3 linked regions of the Homo sapiens genome follow. The protein of the gene in region 1 purifies or fractionates together with the protein of each later gene. This does not show direct contact. Each region holds a gene or a part of one and is shown on either strand. Other genes may lie near its edges.

Region 1 (8,183 bases):
TCAGCATCCCAAAGTGCTGGGATTACAGGCATGAGCCACTGTGCCCGGCCATAAGTGTGTATCTTTGAGGTGGGTGAAGGATGTTATTCTGCTTACCACAATTACTTGTACAACTTTTCTTTTTGGGACGGAGTTTCGCTCTTGTTGCCCAGGCTGGAGTGCAATGGTGCAATCTCAGCTCACTGCAACCTCTGCCTCCCAGGCTCAAGTGATTCTTCTGCCTCAGCCTCCCAAGTAGCTGGGGTTACAGGCGTGCTTCCACCATGCCCAGCTAATTTTTTGTATTTTTAATAGAGATGGGGTTTCACCATTTTGGCCTCAGGTGATCCACCCATCTCGGCCTCCCAAAGTGCTGGGATTACAGGCGTGAACCACCACACCTGGCCACAAATTTTTAACACGTATTTATTTATTTATCTATTTATTTTTGGAGATAGGAGCTTGCTCTGTGATTCAGGCTGGAGTGCAATGGCATGACCATAGCTTACTGCAGCCTCGAACTCCTGGGCTCAAACAATCCATCTGTTTCAGCCTCCTGAGTAGCTAAGGCTTGCACCAACATGCCCAGCTAATTTTTTAAATTTTATTGTAGAGTTGGGGTCTCTCAGTGTTGCCCAGGCTGATTTCAAACTCCTGGCCTCAAGAGATCCTTCCACCTCGGCCTCCCAAAGTGCTGGGATTACAGGCGTGAACCACCATACCCAGCTCTCCTATTTAAAAATCTTGTGTCCTAAAATTTGTCCATTGCTAAAAATTCCTCATAATCATGCTTTTTAGTAACGCCTAATAGTTTCACTGTAGGGAATGTATCACAATTTATTTAGCTGGTCCCCCAGCTTGTGATATTTACATCACTTTACATTTTCATGATTAAAGATAATGATTATCATGCGGAACGTCTGTGGGCCTTTGCATGACATACTGAATCAGAAAGGGGTTAAGGAAAGTGACGTGGTGGTCAGAAAGATCAGAGTTCAAATCCAGGCTCTGCCTCAGTTGGTCATTGTCATTGGAGTCTTGGTTTCCTCCTCCGCACAAAGGGGACCCTTACAAGAGCTCCAACCTTATAGATTTCTAAAAACAGCTATGTTGAGATAAAATTCACATAACATAAATCCACCCATTTAAAGTCTAAATTCAATGGTTTTTAGCCATGTACGGTTTTGGCGGGATTCAATGATGTAGAATCATTATGTGTGTGATGAACACACAAATTGCCATCATGATCAATAATTCTTTGTTCATAATTTTCATTATTTTGTTAGGCTAGGTTCTTGAGAAGTATCGATGCAGGATAAAAGCCTATAAACTTCTCAAATGTTTTGAAAGTAGGCTTGTGAAGATAGGTGGCCTTCAGTGGGATTTTAAAATGTGCTTTTGTTTTTTGGATTTTTGGTGTTTGGATAGAATTTGGGGGCATTGGAGGTGGTATGAAAGTGTTGGGTTATTTGATTCAAAATACCCTCTTTCATTCCCTTGTGTTGCACCACTGAATTATACTCACCCTCAAACTGCACACACAGAGTAATGAGGGGAAGTCACTTCTAATTCACGGACCCTCCCTGCCTGGCACCTCCCCCGCAGAGTCACCACCCTATCCCTCTTCATATCCAAGTGAGACTCCTTCGGTGAGGGTTGCATGAGTACCATTTCCAATTGCCCACCTTAACTCAAGCCACGCCAGTTTCATGGCGGGTGGGCAGAAATGAGAGGCAGGGGTCTCTGCCAATTCCATGGGGTGCCCACCCAACCTCCCAACAAACCACAGAAATATTCCATTTGGCTGTGGGTGGACTGACTGCAGGTTTTAGGGCTGAGTTAGTATGGTGTCAGCCAAATCCAGGAGTGTGTTGCACCAGAGTGGTGTGTGGGTGAATCCTCAGGCATCCCGCAGGTGTGGGATCAGGTTACGTGAGATGGGTGTGGGCTATGTGGTGAGGGATGAGAGGAAGGTGCACGGAGGGTGGGTGGGGTCAGAGGTGGGCGAGGGTGGAGGTGAGGAATGAGGCCCCAGCTGAGGTTGGACATAGTAGTTAAACCAGTGGTTTGGAATCATTTTTGGGTCATGGCCTCCTTTGAGAATCTGATGTATGCTAAGGAAAGAATGGACACACACACACACGCACATGCACACACACACACACACACACAAACCCACAAATTCTGCATATTGTGTCAGGGGTTCCCAGAACTGGGGAAATTCATCCAAGGACTGGCATTAAGAATCTCTGGTCTGGTCTAGTTCACAGGGACTTGTCAGAAACAAATCCTAAAGCTGCATTAAGAGCTTGAGGATATTTATGTCTTCTAGAGTGAAAGAGATTTAGAAAGGTTTGCAGGTTCAGGAATTAAATTCCAAAGTCCACTTTTTCCATTAATTTTTTTTTCTAGTTTTTATTTTGAAAATTTTCAAATTCTACCAAAAAATTGCAAGCTCATGTACTGTTCAACTACATTCACTAATTATCAAAATTTTCCCCCAATTCCTCCCCACTCTATGCATGCTTATGCTCTCAGAAACCCACATTTTCCTGGAGAACAATTTGAGACTAAGTTGCAAATATTGATTCTTCATCTCTACACACTTGGCATGTAACTCCTAAAATTATGGGATTCTCCTGCATAACTAAATACAATGATCATACTCACAAACTTTAACATTGATACAATATAACGTTGTGTAATATACATTAACATTGTGTAATATACATCCTATATTCAAATTTCCCCTGCAGTAACCTTCTATTAGGTTGGTGCAAAAGTAACTGCGGTTTTCGCCATTACTTTCAATTGAATTTCAATAACTTTTGCACCAGCCCAATATGAGCTGTATTCTTTCTCTTTCCCTCCTTTCCTTTCTACTTTAAAAAAAAATCCAGACTCTAATTCAGAATCATACACTTCATCTAATTATGTCTCTAAGTCTTCAGTAACAAGAATACGAATCTAGGGTTTCGTTTGGTTTTCTTTCTCCTAGTGACATTGACTTTTTGAAGAACTCAGGCTAGCTGTTTGGCAGAATGTCGCCCAGCTTGGATTTGTCTGATGGTGTCCTTATCATTAGATTCAGGTTAAATGTTTTGGCAGGAGGACCACATGGGGGAGGTGTCCCTTCTCAGTGCATCACATCAGAGGATCAGTTGGTTCCCTACTGATGAGAAGTTTGGACCATGGGTAAGGTGGTGACCTCGTTTCCCCTTGGTAATTCCTAAGTCATCTGTGGGGTAGCACTGTATTTACTGAAGGTCTCTGACTGTGGCAAATGCTGGGAGAGTCAGTGGTGAGCGCCCACACTCTGTCCTTGCTCTTGTGCTGTTTTTACAAAGGAGGGGACAGACAATAACCCAGGAAACAAATAATGACAAGATATGCAGTTTGATGAAGGACGTGGATAGGGTGCTGAGATAGAGAAGTATCAACTCTAGAGAAAGTGATCTTTAAGCTGAGACTTGAGCTGGAGGCATGCCTGTAGTCCCAACTCCTCAGGAGGCTGGGGTGGGAAGATCGTTTGAGCCCAGGAGTTCTGGGCTGTAGTGTGCAATGCCAATCAGGTGTCCACACTAAGTTTGGCATCAACTATGATGACCTCCTGGGGCTGGAGGACCACCAGGTTGCCAGGTGGCAAACAGCAGGTCAAAACTCCTGTTCGGATCAGTAGTGGGATCATGCCTGTGAATAGCCACTGCACTCCAGCCTGGGCAATATAGAGACACCCTATTTCTAAAAAAATACTACTAATAAAGAAAAAGGTGAAATTTGAATAGGAAAAAGGAGACACCCTTGGGAAGGTGGGGTGGAGGGGTTGGGGGTGGCTCCTAGTTAAGCTTGGAGGATAGAAGGAACCAAAAGACGGATGCACGGTGGTCTCAGGGAGGGAGGAATGAGCAGAGAAAGGCCCTAGGCCTGGAAATAATCATATTGAACACATGCTATCCTAATAGTGAACACCATCCTAAGTGTTTCACATGGTTTACCTTGTTTAATTCTCCTTGCAGCCCTGTGAAGTGAGCGTTATTACTGGTTTTATGCTGTAGAATCTGTGACACAGAGAGGTTGAGTAATTGCCCTAAGGTCACACAGCTTCTAAGTAGCAGTGCTGGATAGATCTGACTCCACAGACTGTGCTCTTAGCTGTGTCAAGCAGGAAGGCCCAGGGTTTCATCCAGAAAACAGAATGTGAAAAGGGACTGGAATGAAAGCAACCTGTACTGGGTGCAGAGGTGCTGTCGATAAAGGATGAGGGATGGGAAAGGAAGACAGAAGAAAGGCCTAGAAGATCAAAGGAGAAGGGTGTTCAAGGCTGCAGGCAGCACTGGAAGCCAGGCCAGCTCAGTTGACCACCTACTCTGGGCACATCCCCAACCCAGCCTGTCCCTTCAGGTCGGATTTGCAATTCTCCTGCTCTCCCTCCTCCTAAACACAAACAGGAGATTTACACTCTCAAAGTCTCTCCCCACAAATGACTTATTAATCACAAAGGGAAAAATTGTAACTTTGCAGTGGCACAACCTGGTCAATGCCAGCTTAACCAAGTGACCAAAGTGGATATTCAGGGAAGGCTCTGGAAGGGCATTTGGGGGAAGTGTAGAAAGGTTTTGTGAGGAGCACTCTGAATGACGGGGGTAGGAAGCCTTGGGGACTGAGGAGTCTACCCTAACAGGGCAGGGTCCAGAGGGGGAAGGAGGGGTATGTCTCGGGGGAAGGGAGAAGTATTGAGGTGGGGGAGGTTCTGAGGTTTGAGTGAGGCCCTGGGGAGGGACTTGACAGTTTGGGTGACAGGAGGGTCAGAATAGGGTCAGTATGGGATGTGTTGGGTGGGTAAAAGCTGGGTGAGTGCAGGGCTGGGGATAGGGTCTCCAAGGACAGTGAAAGGGTCGGGAGTCGCGGGCGAGGGCTCTAGGGCAACGGCCAGTGGAAGGGGGGGCTCCTGTGGCGTGAAGTCAAGCCAGCCCGAGGGTGAGGCGATTTGGACAGTCCGACCTGTGGCGGCGGGAGGGCGAGGGTGGCGGAGGGCGCGAGGTAGGCGGCGGGGCGTGCCGGGGCGGGGCCGGGGCGGGGCCGGCACCGCCCGGCGGGTCCCCCCGCGCTCCAGGGGGCGCTGTGAGCCTGGGCGGCCCCAGGCCGGGCGGCGGCCGCTCCCAGTGAGCGCGGCCCCTTTTCCGGGTTTCCTCCGCCTCCTCCTCCTCTCCTCCTTCTTCTCCGCTGCCGCCGCCGCTGCCCCTTTCCCGGCCGGTGGCTGCCGCTGCCGGTGCCGCCGCCGCCGCCTCCTGGGGGCCGCGAGCCGAGCGGAGACCGCCGCGGAGCGCGAGCGCCGCCCGCCCCGCCGCCCCGCCGGCCGCTCCAGGGCCGGGCCGGCTCGGCCGGCGCCCCCCGCGCCCCCAGCCCGCCCGCCCCCGCGGGCCCGGCCTGGCGCGGCCGCCCGCCGCCGCGCTCCTCCTCCTCCTCCTCCAGCGCCCGGCGGCCCGCTGCCTCCTCCGCCCGACGCCCCGCGTCCCCCGCCGCGCCGCCGCCGCCACCCTCTGCGCCCCGCGCCGCCCCCCGGTCCCGCCCGCCATGCCCGGCCCGGCCGCGGGCAGCAGGGCCCGGGTCTACGCCGAGGTGAACAGTCTGAGGAGCCGCGAGTACTGGGACTACGAGGCTCACGTCCCGAGCTGGGGGTAAAGCCGTCGCCGCCCCCCGCCGGGCCCGCTGATCCCTGCCCCCGCCCGGCCACCCCCTGCGAACCGCACTCGGGCCCGGTGGTGTCTCCCGCCGACCCCTCCGCGGGCCCGCAGGGAGGCAGAGGTCCCGCTCTCGCACATGTCCTCGTCTTCCTCTTCCCTCCCCTTTACCCCCGTTTCGTCCCTTTCTCCCCGCTTTGCGCACCCCTTTCCCCCAAGGAATGCTTTTTTACTCGGGGAGAAGTGTGGGGTCCAGGGATCGACGCCGGGTGGAAGTGAGGGAGCTGCCCTTCCTCACACTTCTGGGTTTCCACTGGGGTGGGAAGTCAACAGCTGTCCTTTGGAGCTATTAAAATGCCCTGCCTTTTAGGTTTTCTGAGATGAGGTGGTGGGAGGAAATTTCTTAAAGACGTCCAGATTTTTAAAACAGGCATTGTCTACCTTGAAGATGTGAAACGAGAAGCAGGTGCTGGGGAGCCGCGGGGCACAGGGGGCACCCTCTAGGCCTTCAGGACGGGTGCTTTGCTCGCCCCTCTGGATTGGCTCAGAGCGTTGCCTTCCTGCCCCATCTTCCCAAGTTAGGAGAGACCAATTAGGTTAGGAGCTCTGCAGAGTGAAGGGAGCCAAGATTATGTCGTGGCTTTCATTTAGGGAATGAGTTGTGACGTGATGTATAGACACTTCCAAGTGTTTGCCTGGTGGAAGCGGCTGAATGACGTGTACAGTGGGCATAGGCTTGGTTAACCCCCAGTCCTGGCATTTATGTGTGTGTCTTCCTTTTACAGTAATCAAGATGATTACCAACTGGTTCGAAAACTTGGTCGGGGAAAATATAGTGAAGTATTTGAGGCCATTAATATCACCAACAATGAGAGAGTGGTTGTAAAAATCCTGAAGGTGAGTGTCCTATGAGTGGTATGTAACATTTTCCTCCCCACAGGGCAAAAGTTTGTAAGGTACCCCAGTCACATTCTATAATGGGCAATGCAAGCTTGAATTTAATTTAATTTATTTGTTTAGAGTCAGAGTCTCACTCTGTCACCCAGGCTGGAGTGCAGATCATAGTTCACTGCAGCCTTCAACTCCTGGGCTCCAGTGATCCATCTCAGCCTCCCAAGTAGCTGGGACTACAGGTGCATGCCACCACGCCCAGCTATTTTTAAAATTTTTTTGTAGAGTCAGGGTCTGGTCATGTTGCCCAGGCTGGTCTTAAGCTCCTGAGCTCAAGCAGTCCTCCAAAAGGACTCCTTGCAGGCCTCCTATAGTTGCTGGGATTAGAGGCGTGAGCCACTGTGCCCAGCCGACGCTCAAATTTTATTTATCTGATGTCCCTTCATTACTTCTTTTTCCACCCCATTTTCCCATGAACTTTCAAGAAAATGTGCAGACATCACAAATCTAAGTTCAGTAAAGTGTTTGTTCTAAAATGTAAATTCCCTAAAGCAAAAATTCCAAAAGGGCTCCGTTTGTTAGAAAATAAATAGGTAATCAAAAGACAGAAAAGCCACTCTCAATTTAAGGGCTCCCTGAGCACTGTGTTTGTTACTCTTGGTGCATGCTGTATGTTATTCCAGAAAGAAAGTTGGAAAAAATTGGAGCGACTTCAGAAATGTATTTCAAGCCCAAGTGGAAGGAAATTCCTTAGCGGATAATCACTTGTTTTTTTCCTTTGGCAGTAAAGTTTCAGGTGGTATGGATACAGTGCACCAGTAGTGCTGAGAAGCCTTGTTGGGAAGCCAGAGAGCCATTGTTGCTTATAAGCTAGTAAAAATATAGAAGAGTTCATGTATAATTACTAAAGTAATAATTGGAACAAAACTATCTTAATATATGGTTTAGCAATGAATTTGATAATGATATGACGTTATCTCTTTGATGAAGATGATTTTAATTAGCATGAAGGGTCGGCTAAATTTTCCTTCTGGTAACTGATTGTGTAGCTTTAATAATGTTTTATAGGGTATAGTAAAAAGTAGTTCTTAGAATCTGTGATGGGTCCTCGTTATTGCCGGATCATTTCATGTGGATACAAGTCATTTAGTGAGAGATTGAGAAGACCGAAGAGTGATGTAAGCACTTTGCATACATGTGATTTCCATTGTGGCCCTTTTGCAGAGGTTCTGTGGACTAGAAAAGCTGTGGTATAGAAAAGCTGTTTCTGTGTGCTAGGGCAGCTGGTATAGGTAATCCCTGTTTAATGTGAGGGGTCAGGCTTATGCTTTCTGGTAATCATCTTTCAGAAAAAATGATTAACTCCATCACTCAAAACATCCTAGCCTAGTGATAAAGGAGCAGAATTGCAGTAAAGAGAAAAAGCAAAGTTATTTGTGTTCTCAGACACACTGGGGCTGAGAAGTGAGGAACTGATGTTGAAGATACTGAGTGTGACTCCTCTCTTCCCTAAATATGAATTGCATTTATGAAGTCACAAGGTGGTTTTTTTTTTTTTTAAGTCACAGGAAAATTACCTTAGAAAGCCATACATTAGCTTTATGTACATAAGCATAAGTTTTCAATAAGCTG
Region 2 (7,937 bases), on another chromosome or scaffold:
GGCAACATAGAGATCCCCCATCTCTACAAAAAATAAGAAAATTAGCCACACATGGTGGTGTGCATCTGTAGTTTCAGCTACTTGGGAGGCTGAGGTGGGAGGATTCCTTGAACCTGGGAGTTCGAGGCTGCAGTGAGCCTGGATGATGCCACTGCAACCCAGCCTGGGCAACAGAATGAGATCTTATCTCAAAAAAGAAAAAAGAAAAAAAGAAGACTTCAAAGGTAGAACAAGGACTCAATCTTCTCTGCAGGTCTAAAAAGAAAAAAGTTTTTCAAATGTCTAGAATGGCTTAGACTTGGCCTAACATTTGGCAATGAGGCAGAATCAGTTCAAAGGTCAGTCTGACCCAAAGGATTCAAATCCCATCTGTGCGTCACACAAACAAATCATTAGCAAACTGCATCCTTCTGCTCTGCAGCTATCCAGTCTTGGCTTTAGTACTTGCCAACCTTACTCTGGAAATTACCCTGTTCATTAATAAGTCAATTATGGAGAATTATTTCTTCCAACTACTGAAACTTTTGCTTCTCAACACCGTTCTGCAGTCCTTTAATCTTGTTTTTTTAACATTACCAGAGAGGAAAAATATTAATATTCTGTGATGCAATCAATATCTTCTCTAGTAACAATACCCTGTTCCACACTGTTCTATACAAACACAGATTCTACCCTGAATTTCAGAAACCACTAGGAAAATAACAGATAACAGAGAAATTAGAGCTCTTAGGTTTAACTTAGAGCCAAAATCAAAAGAGAAGAGAATTCAGAGAGAGGAAGGAAGAAGCTGAGAGGGTCGTGGTGTAGAACACTTACTTTCAGGAACACAGTGTCCCTTAGATTTCTGGTGAGTTGCCCAGAGCCTCTTCAGTTTCAATCCAAATGACAATGCTTCTCTGAGTCCTCCTCAAGTAATGTTTCCACCACTAAAAATTGGATCTACAAGAGCTTAGATGTACTGGTAAAAAAAAAAAATGTCAGGGGCCCCCATGTGGGCCTCAAGCCTCTTTTAAACTAGGCCCACTTCTCTGTCCTGGGCCAACTCCCCTGTGTACTATATTCCTTCTTCTTCCAGGTGCCAGGTATTCAGCCTGTTTCTTCTCTTCTGAGCTGCCACCACCTACTCTATTTCTCAGGGTTCCTCTAACCCCAAGACTGGCTGTGGAGTAGGACACCAGCTTCCCCCCTTCCTTGCTGTCCCTGCAAATAAACATATAGGCTCTTCTAGTTTCAGTATTTTTCTAATGGCTACAAGAAAATAGAGAGGGAACAACAAAAAGCAATAATATATAGTACCAGAGATCAAGATTATAATTGTTTCCACTTTAATGTTCCTGCCTCCAAAAAACGAATTTTCTAAAAATTGCTTATTGAGCATTTTAAAAAGCACAAAGTACTAACACAGATACACAAATATACTCTAAACCAACTCCAACCTTACACAGCCAAGAAGATACTCTGCTTTTCAAAATACTTAAATCACAAATCACGGGTCCAAAAATAGTAACCACAATCATTTTAGCAAATACTTTTTTTCTTTTTGGAATGTTCTGTTGTAATCCCTTAAATTTAGCATACGTTTGAAAGTTTGCTTTTTGAATATGAAAAATGTACGAAATATTTTATCAATTGTGGGAATATACAAAAAGCATATGATGATTTACAAAAAACAAGCATGTCAAAACCAGCGAGCTTCACTGAGAAATTTTTCAGATAAGTTACTGTCAACCATTCCTGTCTCTAAATTTTAAACTTAATAAAATTCTGTAAAGTGTTTTTTAAAAAATCAAGATCTCATTTTTTAGAAATCTAACGTCTACTGAATATTTGTATATGTCAATATTACATGTGCCTTCTTTTTTAAAGCAACAGTAAGATTAGTATGCTTATTGTTATAGTTTAGTTTCTAATGGACTTTGTAATATCAAAATACATATCTTCTCTAAATATTAAGTAATAAATCACAGGATTATATTTAATTCAAAGGGTACCTTCGTATAAGAATCAAGGAGCTCGATAACTAAGTGCTGACAGATTAAGAATGCCACTGACTGAATTTCCTGGATGATTTTCTTTATTCACTTAATTCAAAGTCATTTTTTAAAAGACAGAGTTATTATACTGCAAGCTTACAATAAATAAAGTCTGAAAATAGGCAGAGATCTTTTCATCTCATTTGTCTAAGAGACTGCCATTTAATCAAACTAAAGATATAAAGGTACTTTCAGTAAAAATCTGTTCCTGTGACTGGGCTCATCTCCAACTACTTATTTATAAAATATTAGAGTACTGGAATAAAAACACTAAATAAAACCTTGATCTGACCCTTCCAGAAGTACATGTAGAAAAATAAGTTTTAATATATTGTGTATTCTGCAATCAGATACTTTTCTTTCTTTAGGAACGAAATTAAATTACATCCTTTGCTCCTAAAGAGATTTTATGGGTTTTCCTTGATCCCCACACACTAACACAACAATGCAGCCAACATTTTTATACCCAGAATGGGGAGAGGGGCATTACACCCAGCGATACGAATTAAATCGCAGTAGCTAATGCCTCCCTTAAATAATTTATTCTCTCTTGGCAGCAAAAAACGTTACAGCCTCTTCAATTACCCCTCACCGCAAACCATCGCCTGGGTTGCGATCAATGTGACCCAGTTCCTATCGCCACAGCCACCTCCGTCTGCCTCCTCCCGCCGGGTCCGCCAGTGTCATGGGAGGGGGCGGCAGCCGCAAGGGCGTCCTCTGGTCGCCACCCCGCCGGCCGGCGGCGCGAGGGGCAGGCCCGGGACTCACCGGGTGGAGGTGCCCTTCCGCACATCGCACATCATGCACTTGAAGGCCTCGGCGCTGTTCCGGAAGGTGCAGACGCTACAGTCCCAGTAACCCTCATCCGAGGACGGCTTCGGCTGCCGCTTCGGCCTGCAGGACACAACCCGGACACGACGCGGCGCGGGGTCACCAGCAGGCCGCGCCCGGTGCCCGGGCCCCGCGGCCGCCCCCGCCCCGCCCCCCGCCCCAATTCTGCGACCCCCGCCCCGCGGGCCCTCGGCGCGCCGCGCTCCGGCTGAGGGGGAAGGGAGTCAGGAAGAGGCAGGGCGCGAGCGCGGCCGCAGTCGCCGCCGCCACAGCCGCTCTGACACCCGGGCGGCCGCTCCGGTCGCCGCCGCCATCGCGGCTCCATTGTGGGGCGGCCGGCGCCGGCCCCCTCAAGCGGCAGCACTCGCACACCAGCGGCGCTGCCCCCGTGCTCGCCCCGGTGCCCGGGCGGCTAGCGAGGCGGCCACCCGAAGCCCTGCACGAGGGCCCTGCCGCCCGCACAGTCCGGGCCCCGGGGCCCGGGCGCTGTTACCTGGTGGGGCTCTTCTTGTCTCCCATGGCTTGGCTATCACCGCACGCCGAGAGTCGCCGCCGCGACCGCTCTGTTTGTCAATAAGGAGGATAATAAGCCGGGCGGAAGCGGGCGGGGGAGGAGGGAGGGAGGGGGCGGGGAAGGCCGCACCGCCGCGCTCGGGAGCCGCCGCCGGATCCCACGCAGCCTCCAGCTGTCGGGGAAACTCCTGCCTGGGCGCACGTGACCCTCGCCGGCCAACCAGCAGCCGCGCCGGAGACTTCAAACGCGGCCAGCGCGGCCCAGCACCCGCGGCGAGTTAGCCGGCGGGCGGTGCGGGGGTGGCCGCGGTGGCCGCGGCTGCCTCGGGCGCCGGCGCCGCCTCTCCGCGCTGTTCCCCCGTTGCCCCCTTGGTACCCCCGGCTGCCGGGGACTGCCTCGCGCTCCAGAGCCCCTCTGAGGAGGAAAACGTCTGTCCCACCGACTGGCAGGGGATGCTCCGTCATCCCGTGCGAAGCCTGGTCCAAGGTAGGGCCGGCCGGCGTTCGGAGGCCTGTCCAGGTCTGGACAGAAGTGCCAGCCCGGGATCTCCAGGTAGAACGACTTTCCTGGCCTCCGCTGTCCTTAGCTACCCAGCCCCCGCCTGCAGTATACCGGGGGGAAGGCGGGAACCAACACGCAGCGCCATTGCTACATGCCTTAAAGCACTGTCTGGTTTATGCACACAGATGCTCTAACAAGTAGGGATTGTCAACCCTAACTTAGAGGAATTGAAATCAAGACTCAAGAGAGATTAGGTGACTTCCTCTAGGCTATATAATTAGAAAATGACAAAGCCAAGAGTCTAACTCTGTTTTAATTCCAAACGCGCCCTTTTGGCCTCTCAGGCCTCTGCAGTAGCTGCTTTTGAAAGAAACCCCTATATACTCATAAGTCCTTTTTAAATATAAGGAGTTTGCATGTCCCCTCAACGCTGTCTGCTAACAAAAGAACACCTTCCCAGGTCTCTACGTCAACATACTAAAGGTCCTCATACTCCAGACTCCAGCAACAGCCATCTAACTGGTCTCCGAAGCTCCACTTCTACCTCCCCAATGTATTCAGTAATCCACAACCAGATTAATAATAAAATGCTGTTAATACTATGCCACCACTCTGATAAAGAACCACTAACGACTTGCCCACACTCCTTAGCCTGGCATTCAAAGGCTTCACACATTTTCCCTACCTCTGCCTCCCTCTCCCATAAGGAAAGCTGCCTCCTGACAAAGAGTGCAGATGAAATTCATTCCCTTACCAGAACCCTTCCTTCATGCACATGGGTTACTTCTGCATAAAGTATATCCCTCTTTAACTGTGCTGTTTCTGTCCATCTTTCTAGGTTTACATCAAGTCCGAATTCATGTAAAATAATTTTATAGCTAAACTACATAGGAAATAATACAGTCAGAAGCCCAGGATTCTCAGCCTGCTTCTCCTGTTTCTTAGCTGATAGACCTTGGAAGTATTGCTTAATTTCTGTAATTCTCAACGTTTTCATATTCTGAATTGCATCTATATGAGATTGTTGTGCGATTAATAATAACATTTTTTGGCCGGTTGCGGTCGCTCACGCATGTAATCCCAGCACTTTGGGAGGCCGAGGCGGGCGGATCACCTGAGGTCAGGAGTTCACAAGACCAGCCTGGCCAACGTGGCGAAACCCCATCTCTATTAAAAAATACAAAAATTAGCCAGCTGTGGTGGCGGGCGCCTGTAATCTCAGCTACTCGGGAGGCTGAGGTAGGAGAATCGCTGGAATCCGAGAGTGAGAGGTTGCTGTGAGCCGAGATCGTGCCACTGCACTCGAGCTTGGGCGACAGAGCGAGACTCCGCCTCTAAGTAAATAAATAAATAACATTTTTTTGAGCACTATGTGCCAGGCACTTTGTAAATCCCTGCGCATAGATGCATATTTTAAAGGACTCAAAGTACTATGCACATGGCCTCATCGACTGCAGATGCTCTTCGATTTAGAAAGGGGATACTTCCCGATAAATCCACCTTAAATAGAAAATATTGTAAATTGAAAATGCATTTGGTACACCGATAAATCCATCGTAAAGTAGAAAAATCGTAAGTCGAGCCATTGTAAATCCGTAGTCTAGCCCTTCTTTTTAAAGACAAGGCAATTAGGGCCCAGGTTAAATGGTTTTTCTTTGATGAGCAGGCCAGGGTTAGAGCTCAGGTATCCTATTGGTCTTTCACCGCATCTTCTTTCTGATTAACCAAATCACTCCATTTACATAGCAGTCTCTAAACTCGTTGTACCATCTGTACTTTTTGCAAATGTAGCTTCTCATGATTCAGACCCAAATTCGGAAACCAGGAACCATGAGGAGTATGATTGAGGCACGTATACAAGAGAACCAGATTTAAGGCCTAGTCTTTAACCTCTCAGTAATGCAGTGGGTAAACTCAGCTAAGTTTTTTTCATATGTAAAATAAAGGAGTTAAAACTATTATCACAACTAAGGTCCCTTGCAAGTCTAAGGCATTGTGATGTTTTTAAATGCCTCAACTGGATGGATCCTCAAATAGACTGACAAGAACTGCTCTACTTGCAAAAGTGATGGCAACAATGTATTTTTAAATAAAAAGGAAACTAAATCAAGCACTCTAAAAATCCCCCATGCTGCAAATCACCATTTCACTAGATTGTAACCTCCCTCACTAAAAAGTAAGCCGCACCTCTGAATCATGAACAAAAAGCACAATAACTTTTGTTGCCTTTATTGCTGCATCTCCAGCCCCTAGAACAGTGTGACACATAGTGGGCACTCAATAAATATTCTGAGAATAAATACATCCACTTATAGTCAGGTTAGCGCGCGCCTGTATTCCCAGCTACTTGGGAGGCTGAGGCAGGAAGATAACTTGGGCCCCGGAGTTCCAGACCAGCCTGAGCAACAAAGCCAAGACCCTGTTTCTAAACTAAATAATCAATACATTCACTTGTGTTACAATTGTTGAATGAGATTTTTTTCTTTCATATTGGGATTTACAAACTGTTAGGCATATTGCATGCAGTGGATGGTCAATAAATGCCAGAATTAACATTTATCCTTCAAAATGAACTTTACAACTCCACACATCCTTGTCGATGAACCAGGAACCTAGTTTTTGTGGAGCACAGAATCATATGCCCTTGCACTATACCAACTGCCTCCCATTTATGGGTGTTTCTCTTAAAAAAAAATCTCTGCCCCTACTAGGCTTACGTGGAGACAGTAGTACAGGAGGTACTCCTCCCATTTCACCACAAAAAGTCACACCTTTCCTAAAGTGTTTACTAGCTGTAAGAGTGGCTGTTGTGGAGAAAACAGATCTTTTTATTACTAAAGTGGCCCAGGTTCTTACCCAATCAGGTGTCTTTTCAATACAGTAACAGAGTTCAGTACTTTAGAAATGTTAATTCATTACGGTCACTTGTAAAGTGACAAACACTAACGATCGTTTTAACAATTTAACAAGTGTTGAAGTTTTCTGATGATTTACTTTTTTTGTTGTTTGTTTGTTTTTTTGTGTGTTTGTTTGTTTTTTTGTTTTTGTGTGTGTGTGTGAGAGAGTCTCACTCTAGTGCCTGGGCTGTAGTACAGTGGTGTGATCATAGGTCACTAAAGCCTTGAACTCCTGGGCTCCAGCGATTCTCCTGCCTCAGCCTCCTGAAGTGTTGGGATTCCAGGCATGAGCCACTGTGCCTGGCCTTACCTTAATGTTTAAAAGGTAAATGAGGGCAGACCAGTGGCTCATGCCTGTAATCCCAATACTTTGGGAGGCCGAGGTGGGCAGATATCTTGAGCTCAGGAGTTCAACAATAGCCTGGGCCATATGGGGAAACCCTGTCTCTACAAAAAATACAAAAATTAGCCGGGTGTGGTGGCATGCACCTGTAGTCCCAGCTACTTGGGAGGCTGAGGTGGGAGGATCACTTGAATCCAGGAAGCAGAGGTTGCAGTGAGCCAAGATCACACCACTGCACTCTATCCTGGGTGACAGAATGAGGCTCTGTCTCACAAAAAAAAAAAAAAAAAAAAAAAAAAAGTAAAGCAATCTTTACTTTCCCCAGTTACTGAGGAAGCTGAGAGCTGAGGCAGGAAGGATCACTTGAACCCAGGAGCTGTGGGCTGTAGTGTGCTATACTATTCGAGTGTCTGCACTAAGTTCGCCATCAATATGGTGACTTCCCAAGAGTGAGGGGCCACCAGGTTGCCTAAGGAGGGGTGAACTGGCCCAAGTCAGAAACTGAGCAGGTCAAAACTCCCGTGCAGCGCTGGGCGCAGTAGCTTACACCTGTAATCCCAGCACTTTGGGAGGCTGAGGCAGGCGGATCACCTGAGGTCAGGAGTTCAAGACTAGCCTGGCCAACATGGCGAAACCCCATCTCTACTAAAAAATACAAAAATTATCCAGGCGTGGTGGCACGTGCCTGTAATCCCAGCTACTCGGGAGGCTGAGGCAGGGAGAATTGCTTGAACCTGGGAGGCAGAGGTTGCAGTGAGCTGAGATTGCGCCATTGCACTCCAGCCTGAATGACAGAGTATGACTCTGTCTGAAAAACA
Region 3 (7,853 bases), on another chromosome or scaffold:
CAGAGCGAGACCCTGTCTCAAAAAAAAGAAATATAGGGGGCTGGGCATGGTGGCTCACGCCTGTAATCCCAGCACTTGGGGAGGCAGAGGCGGGCGGATCACGAGGTCAGGAGATCAAGACCATCCTGGCCAAGATAGTGAAACCCCGTCTCTACTAAAAATACAAAAATTAGCTGGGCATGGCAGCACACACCTGTAGTCCCAGCTACTCGGGAGGCTGAGGCAGAAGAATTGCTTGAACCTGGGAGGTGGAGTTTGCAGTGAGCTGAGATCGTGCCACTGCACTCCCACCTGGGCGACAGAGCAAGACTGTCTCAGAAAAAAAAAAAAAATACAGGGAACAGGGAAGGGTAATAGAGCTCAGTGAGCATTCTGGTGGAAACCATCTCATCCCCTCCGGTCCCCAGCATAGAACCAAATAATCAATACTATTATTAAGGAGGATGATGTACATGATGTTCTAGGTTTAAGGACTCATTCATGTCCGCATGGAATCAATTCATATTCTTCACGGATCTTCTGGGGTCCACACAGATCTGAAAGGCTGCATGTACAAAGGGACAATGCCATAAGCCAAGACTTAAGAAATGATCCTCGTTCAGCTTTATCAGGGGCGTGCAGTACAAGCAAGTTTCTTCAGTGCCTTACTTTTGCTGTTTGAAAGAGGACACAAATGGCCGGGTGTGGTGGCTCACATCTGTAATCCCAGCACTTTGGGAGGCCAATCACTTGGGCCCAGGAGTTCAAGACCACCCTGGGCAACATGGTGAAACTCCCCAGGCATGATGGCACGTGCCTGTAGTCCCAGCTATGCCTCCCAGCTGACATGGGAGGATCCCCTGAGCCCGGGAGGTCGAGGCTGTGATGGGCCATGATCATGCCACTGCACTCCAGCCTGGGTGACAGAGTGATACCGTCTCAAAAAAAAAAAAAAAAAAAAAAAAAAAGACAAGACAAGGCAGAGAGCACAAGTGATCTATGTATCATAGGGTTATTCTGAGCATAATACAAAATTGCTAATGTAAGAATCCCACCAAGAATACGATTTACTATTCCAGATGAACCAAGCAAGGACATGTCAGGTCAAGGAGGAACTGGAAAGGAATAAGCACTGGAACTCTAGGGCTGGGGTCGGAGGCAAGAGTCAGGGGTCATGCAGGATCAAGTCTAGGGCACCTGGGCCATCACTGGCACCTGGAGATCTAGCTTGGTCAGCAGGGAGAAAAGGACTCAAGGAAATTACCCAAGAGACCAAGATGGAAAGAATAAGACACAGGAACAGAAAGAGACAAAGAGAAGAGACAGAGGGGAAAATGGTGATGGCAGCCTGGTCACAAGGGCCCCAGCCTAGACCTCTCCTGTCACAAACACCTGCTGCTCGCTCACTACCTTCCCCAGAGTGCCTGGCCCTCCCCTAGCCAGCCCTTCCTTCTCCACCCCTCCCCATCTTGCTTTCCCGAGGCTAAAACTCCCAAGATACATACACATTTCTCCAGCACAGCTGCCACAGTGGGAAAAAGCCAGGCTCCCTCAACCCTCACCCATCATTTCTGCTCCAAGCTCCTCACCCCATTCCATCCCCTAACTTTAACTCCTCACCCTTTCCATTTTCCTGTGGCAACAGTAGCCCAGGAAGTTTCACCTAGCCTCAACCTGGCCAAGTGCAAAAAATAAAATTAAAAATCCCACAAGAATTATGTGGCACTAATCCAACAAGCAGGCCAGCTCAGAGTTTGTGGGAGACCCAGGTCTGTCCCCTACCAGTGTCTCCCCATGAGTGTTTCTGTATCTACGAAGAAGCAACTAAAGAGTCTATCCCTATCCATTCCCTGCCCAGGTTGCAGGCCATTTCCCAGCCAGCTCTCCCACCTCTCTCCAGTCTTCAGACTGTAACTAGAGACAGTCCCAGCAAGTGGCAGCTGGGATTGCTGGGACCAAGGTTGGGGTGGGGGCAAAACCAAAGGGGGAGTCCTCCCCTCACCCCCACCCTATTCAATTCTGCAGAATCTGGGTTTAAACAAAAACCCTTGTCTCTATAGGCCTGGCTCCTAAGCCTGGTTCCCTCCTGACCAGAGGCCTGAGCTACCTTCCACTCAGGTACTCAGAAAAGTGGACTGCTACAACGAAGACCAGCGGGGACTAGGAGAAAACACCTGCGAACTCACCCGCCCCCACACCCCGCCAGCCACCTCCCTCTTGGGTGCCCCAGTGACTTAGAGGTCATCCGATGGCCACCCACCCAGAGCAGACAGTCGACCAAGCAAGCCGCCAAGCTCAAGCCAAGGAGGATCAGGCCTTCCTGCGACTGCTGAGCCCTGTCTCTAGGGCTCCTATCTCCCCCGCCCCCTTTCCCTCTGTGGTTCCCCAAAAGCCAAAGAGGCTGAACAGGAAGAGGCTGAACAGGCCCAGGTCGAGTGGGGGCTCCACTGACCTTTGCCCGGGCCCAAGGCCTGCAGCGCAGAGGAGGGCGAGGGGCTGGCGGCGATTAGGTTGAGGCCAAGCTGGGTAGCAGACGGAATTAAGTCCCTGCCATCTGCCGAGGGCTGGCGCGGGGAGCAAGTCCTGGGTTTCGAGGAGGGGGCGGGGTGTACACATGAGAAACTACAAGGGAAACTGAGGCGCGCGGCCCTTCTCTCACTCGCACCGGCGTGCGAAGCGAAGGCCGGGCCTCAGCCAGGCCAGGCCCTTTGGGAGCTGCTGCGCAGCACCTGGGGACCCAGGACTACACAGGATAGGGTGGGGAGCTGGAAAGAGGGGAGGAGAGAGGGGACGGTCTCTGCGCGACTCTCAGCTCTCTAGCTGGGGTCCGTCCCAACTCGGACCTCGTCCCCTCCCCTCCGGGCGCAGCGGAGCCTCCTCCCGCCGCGCACTCCCGGAGGCTCGCTAGAGACTGGAGACTGATCGGGGGGTGCGCAGGGGGCCGGGGGCGCAAGCCTGAGTCTTGCCCGGGCCCGGACGCTGACCCGCACCCAGTCGGGGTGCAGGTTCTGCTCCGGCCTGGCCCAGGTCCCCCGCCCCCATCCCCGGGAACGGACACCATTTTAGGTCGCGACATCCCGCAGCCTTCAATCTCCGGGCCGCACTTCGGGTGCCTCTCGAGCCGGGGGCGCCAGGACCTGGGGTTCTCGACCCTCCTGGGGGTTTACCCGGCTACGGACTGTGCTTACAACAGGCCAGGAGTTTCGCCCATCCGCCCCAATGGATGGAGGCGGTGTCTGGGCCTTCCTAGAAGCCGCCCCAGGGGGCGGCGCGGAGAAGGGGGTAGTTGACCAAGTGGGGGAGGGGCGGGGGTATTTACCCGCCCCCCCCAAGGGGGCGGAGCCAAGGGCGGGTATTTACCCCAGGCACGCTTACTTGTTCCGCTCCTGGTGCGGGCCGAGACCCGGCGGTCTCTACCCCGCTCCAGCCGCTGCAGCCACCGCCGCCCTCCCCGCGGCCGCCGCTACTTCCTGCTTCTCTCCGGTTCGGCCTCCCCACTCCCTCTCCTCCCTCCGCGCTCCAGGTCTGGGCTGCCCGTTTTCGCACTCGCCATTGGCCCTTGCCCCCGTCGCTCAGCCCTGTGCCCCTTCCAGCCCCGCACTGGGTTGGCCCTAAATACTGCCGCTCGGAACTAGCCCCGCACAGTCCTCTTATGCTCATTGGGCAAGGGGCCGAGGCCCTCTGAAGATACCTCTCCCCATTGGCTGCGCCGGGGTCCGTCTGCCCCATCTACGAGTCTCGTAAACGATTGGCCTCCGCCACTGTCGCTTAGAAAGAAGCCAGCCTGCTTCCCAGCTTGCCTACTGGAAGGGGGAGCACCCAGGTGCGTCTCCGCCCCTCGCTCCCTACTGGCCGCTCGAAGCTTGAAGCTGCAGTTCACTTTCGCGAATGTAAGGAACCCAGCTTCTGTGTGGTGGGCACTGAGAGCAGAACCGCATTGAGTCGGAGTGGAGCACAGAAGTGTAGGTCCTTTTGCGCTGTTTCAAGCTAAACCCGTGTCACTGATGCCGTACAGAAGTTACAGAATGGGACGCCACCCCAAACATTACGTCATCCGCTGACCATTTCCTTGCGGTCTTCCCACCGTCTAAATCGCCATATAATCTGATGGATGGGGTCCTCGCGCGGTTCAGCTCCTGGGCGACAGCGTAACCCGTCGCTCCTCCCTCTGCGGGAGGGCGTGGACGGGGCACGGGATTTGGAGCATGGAAGGAATCGGGACCTAAAGGTTGGGAAGGGCTCGCGGACCGGAAGCGGGGGAGGTGACGTAGGAGTGCTGGCGTGGCCGGGCCATTTCCAAAGAGGCATTAAAGGAGCAACTGATAGGCGTCCTAAGTATGGGCTGGGGGGGGAACCGCCAGCTCCATTTCCCATTTAAGGGCTCCCCTTTTCCCCGCCCCCAGCATGGAGTGGGGGTGGGGTCAAGGTCGAGTTTTCCCGCGCTTTGTTGCCACGCCCCCTGGAGGCGGGGGAAAGGGAGGAGTCGCTCGGAAAATGAATCTCCTTGATGCTCTAATAGCACTCACTGGCAGAATTCGTATGCAAGCCCAGTGTGCCACCTCGCGCACGCAGCCGCTCGTTAACGGCGTGTTTTTATTTTTTAATTAATTTTTTTGAGGCAGAGCCTCACTCTGCTGCCCAGGCGGGAGCACAGTGGCGCGATCACGGCTGACTGCAGCCTCAACCTCCCAGGCTCCAGTGATCCTCCCGCCTCAGCCTCCTGAGTAGCTGGGACTACAAGTGAGCGCCAAATCGCCCTGCTAACTTTTTTATTTTTTGAAGAGACAGGGTTTTGCCATGTTGCCCAGGCTGGTCTCAAGCAATCCTACAGACGTGAGCCACTACTCCCTACCTTGGCGAAGTTTTTTATTTTTTATTTTTTGAAACGGGGCCTCATTCTGTCGTCCAGACTGGAGTGCAGTGGCGGGATCTCGGCTCACGGCAACCTCCGTCTCCCAGGCTCAAGCAATTCTCCTGCCTCAGCCTTCCGACCAGCTGGGATTACAGGTGTGCGACACTACCCGCCCGGCTAATTTTTGTTTTTTTCTTTTTTTTTTTTTTTTGAGACGGAGTCTCGCTGTGTCGCCCAGGCTGGAGTGCAGTGGCGCGATCTCGGCTCACTGCAAGCTCCGCCTCCCGGGTTCACGCCATTCTCCTGCCTCAGCCTCCCGAGTAGCTGGGACTGCAGGCGCTCTCCACAATGCCCGGCTAATTTTTTGTGTTTTTAGTAGAGACGGGGTTTCACCGTGTTAGCCAGGATAGTCTTGATCTCCTGACCTCGTGATCCGCCCGCCTCGGCCTCCCAAAGTGCTGGGATTACAGGCATGAGCCACCGCGGCCGGCCATTTTTGTATTTTTAGTAGAGACGGGGTTTCACCGCATTGGCCAGGCTGGTCTCGAACTCCTGACCTCAAATCATCCATCCGCCTTGGCCTCCCAAAGTGCTGGGATTACAGATGTGACCCACCGGGCCCGGCAAAGTTTTTAAAAGTGGTTTCGTTACCCTGCCCAGGAGTCCCAGGACACCGGAACCAGGACTCCCCGGCGCACCCGGAGAGTTTCCGAGCTCCTTTGAAGTATGAATCAGAACTTCTGGATGGGAATCCTGGAGCCACCACTTGCCCTATGGTCGCAATGGGCAAGTCGCTCAACCTCCCAGATCCTGTTTTCTCATGAGTAAAACGGGGATTATAATACCCACCTGACAATATTATTTTTGTGAGAATTAAATGAGTTTAGAATGTAAACACGCTTTGTAAAGTAATTGGCAGTTGGGATTAGTGTGCCCTTTCTCCCGGAGCCTTGCATCCTGTGCATTTGCTCAGGTGCTGTTCCTTCTCTGAGCAACTAATTAAAGGTCCCTAACCCGATGTAACCAACCGGCATTCCATTTCCACCTCCTCTTCTGGTCTCCCTATGCGGAATAACAATTACTACTCATATACACATAATATTTTGGGGGGCTCACGCCTGTAATCCCAGCACTTTGAGAAGTCTAGGTGGGTAGCTCACTTGAGCCCTGGAGTTCGAGACTAGCCTGTGCAACACAGCAGGACTCTGCCTCTACAGAATATTTGGAAAAAAAAATTAGCCAGGGGTGTTGGCAGGCACCTGTGATCCCAGCTACTGGGGAGGCTGGGATGGAAGGATCGCTTGAGTCCAGGAAGTCAAAACTACAGTGAGCCGGGATCGCACCACTGCACTCCAACCTGGGAGACAGAGCGAGACTCTGTCTCAAAAAAAAAAAAAAAAAAAACACACACACACAGAAAAACTTTATTTATTTTATTAATAAACATATTATTAATAACTCACGTAGTCCTTACCACAACCATGGAAGGAGGTACTATTTCAGGTACTGGAGATGTAGCAATGAACAAAGCAGACAAGAAGCCCTGTCATGAAACACACATTCCTAAAGAGAAGACAAACAATAAATATTAGAAATGGTAGCTGCCAAGGAATAAAATAGAGTTATCAAGCCATGCAAAGACAGAGGAATCTTCGATGCATATGACTAAGTGAAAGAAGCCAATCTGAAAAGGTTGCATGCTGTATGATTCCAGCTATGTGACATTCTAGAAAAGGCAAAACTATAGAGAGTAAAAAGATCAGTGGTTGGTTGCTGAGGGTTCAGGTGGAGGGAGAGAGATGAATAAATAAATGGAGCACAGGGGACTCTTACAACACTGAAACTATTCTATGTGATACTGTAATAGTGGATACATGTGTCAACAGCCATGGAATGTACAACACAAAGAGTGAACCCTGTGAGCATGGTGGCTCACACATGTAATCCCTGAACTTTGGGAGGCCAAAGCGGGAGGATCAACAAAAAATTTGAAAAATTAGCCGCGTACAGTGGCGCACACCTGTAGTCCCAACTACTCAAGTGGCTGAAGCAGGAGAGTCCCTTGAGCCCAGAAGTTTGAGGCTGCAGTGAGCTACGATCCTGCTGCCGCACTCCAGCCTGGGCAACAAAGTGAGACCCTGTCTCTTAATAATAATGTTTCCATATTGGTTCATCAATTGTAACAAATGTACCACACTAATGCGAGATATTAATAAATAATAGAGTAACCTGAGCAACATGGAGAGACCCCATCTCTACAAAAAAACTTTTTTTTAAGTAGCGTGGCATGGTGGTGCACACCTGTGGTCCCAGCTACTTGGGAGGCTGAGGAGGGAGAATCACCTGAGCCCTGGAGGTCAAGGTTGCAGTGAGCTGTAATCACACCACTACACCCCAGCCTGGGCAAAAGACCAAGACCTTGTCTCAAAATAATAATAATAATAGGGGAAACTGGAGAGAGAGGATGTGTGGGAACTCGCATTTTGTGCTCAATTTTTCTGTAAACCTAAAAATGCTGTAAAAAATAAAGTGTATTAATTTAAAAACAAAAACAATTTAAAAAAAAAAACAAAGCAGGCGGCTGGGCGCAGTGGCTCATGCCTGTAATCCCAGCACTTTGGGAGGCCGAGGCGGGTGGACCATGAGGTCAGGAGATCAAGACCATTCTGGCTAACATGGTGAAACCCTGTCTCTACTAAAAATACAAAAAATTAGCTGGTCATGGTGGCACACGCCTATAGTCCCAGCTACTTGGGAGGCTGAGGCAGGAGAATCGCTTGAACCCGGGAGGCAGAAGTTGCATTGAGCCGAGATCGCACCACCACACTCCAGCCTGGGTGACAGAGCAAGACTCTGTCTCAAAAAAACAAAAACAAAAGCAAGGAAAGATGACAGTAAGTGTGGGAGGGTTGCAATTTTAGGTAGGGTGGACAGTAAAGGCCTTTTCGAGAAGATGGTGGTTAAGTAAAGGTCTGAAAGAGATGAGGGAGTGAGCCATGCAGCTATCTGGGACAAGAACATT

Evidence for each region.
Region 2: the proteins of CSNK2A2 (region 1) and YAF2 purify together in Homo sapiens (affinity purification with mass spectrometry; 11 studies listed by BioGRID and IntAct, with this or other methods). This does not show direct contact.
Region 3: the proteins of CSNK2A2 (region 1) and ZNF687 purify together in Homo sapiens (affinity purification with mass spectrometry; 8 studies listed by BioGRID and IntAct, with this or other methods). This does not show direct contact.

Annotation. Positions count from the first base shown.
Region 1 is NC_000016.10:58,195,107-58,203,289, reverse strand, and holds the start of CSNK2A2 (casein kinase II subunit alpha'), read left to right. Parts: upstream 1-5,183; 5' UTR 5,184-5,553; coding exon 5,554-5,657; intron 5,658-6,381; exon of another isoform or gene 6,382-6,445; coding exon 6,446-6,557; intron 6,558-8,183.
Region 2 is NC_000012.12:42,234,798-42,242,734, forward strand, and holds the start of YAF2 (YY1-associated factor 2), read right to left. Parts: upstream 3,452-7,937; 5' UTR 3,384-3,451; coding exon 3,358-3,383; intron 2,939-3,357; exon of another isoform or gene 2,928-2,938; coding exon 2,802-2,927; intron 2,774-2,801; exon of another isoform or gene 2,636-2,773; coding exon of another isoform or gene 2,619-2,635; intron 1,201-2,618; coding exon of another isoform or gene 999-1,200; exon of another isoform or gene 1-998. UniProt on the Homo sapiens protein: Binds to MYC and inhibits MYC-mediated transactivation. Also binds to MYCN and enhances MYCN-dependent transcriptional activation. Increases calpain 2-mediated proteolysis of YY1 in vitro.
Region 3 is NC_000001.11:151,277,897-151,285,749, reverse strand, and holds the start of ZNF687 (zinc finger protein 687), read right to left. Parts: upstream 3,452-7,853; 5' UTR 3,355-3,451; exon of another isoform or gene 3,340-3,354; intron 3,218-3,339; exon of another isoform or gene 3,191-3,217; coding exon of another isoform or gene 3,168-3,190; intron 2,563-3,167; coding exon of another isoform or gene 2,432-2,562; intron 545-2,431; exon of another isoform or gene 1-544. UniProt on the Homo sapiens protein: May be involved in transcriptional regulation.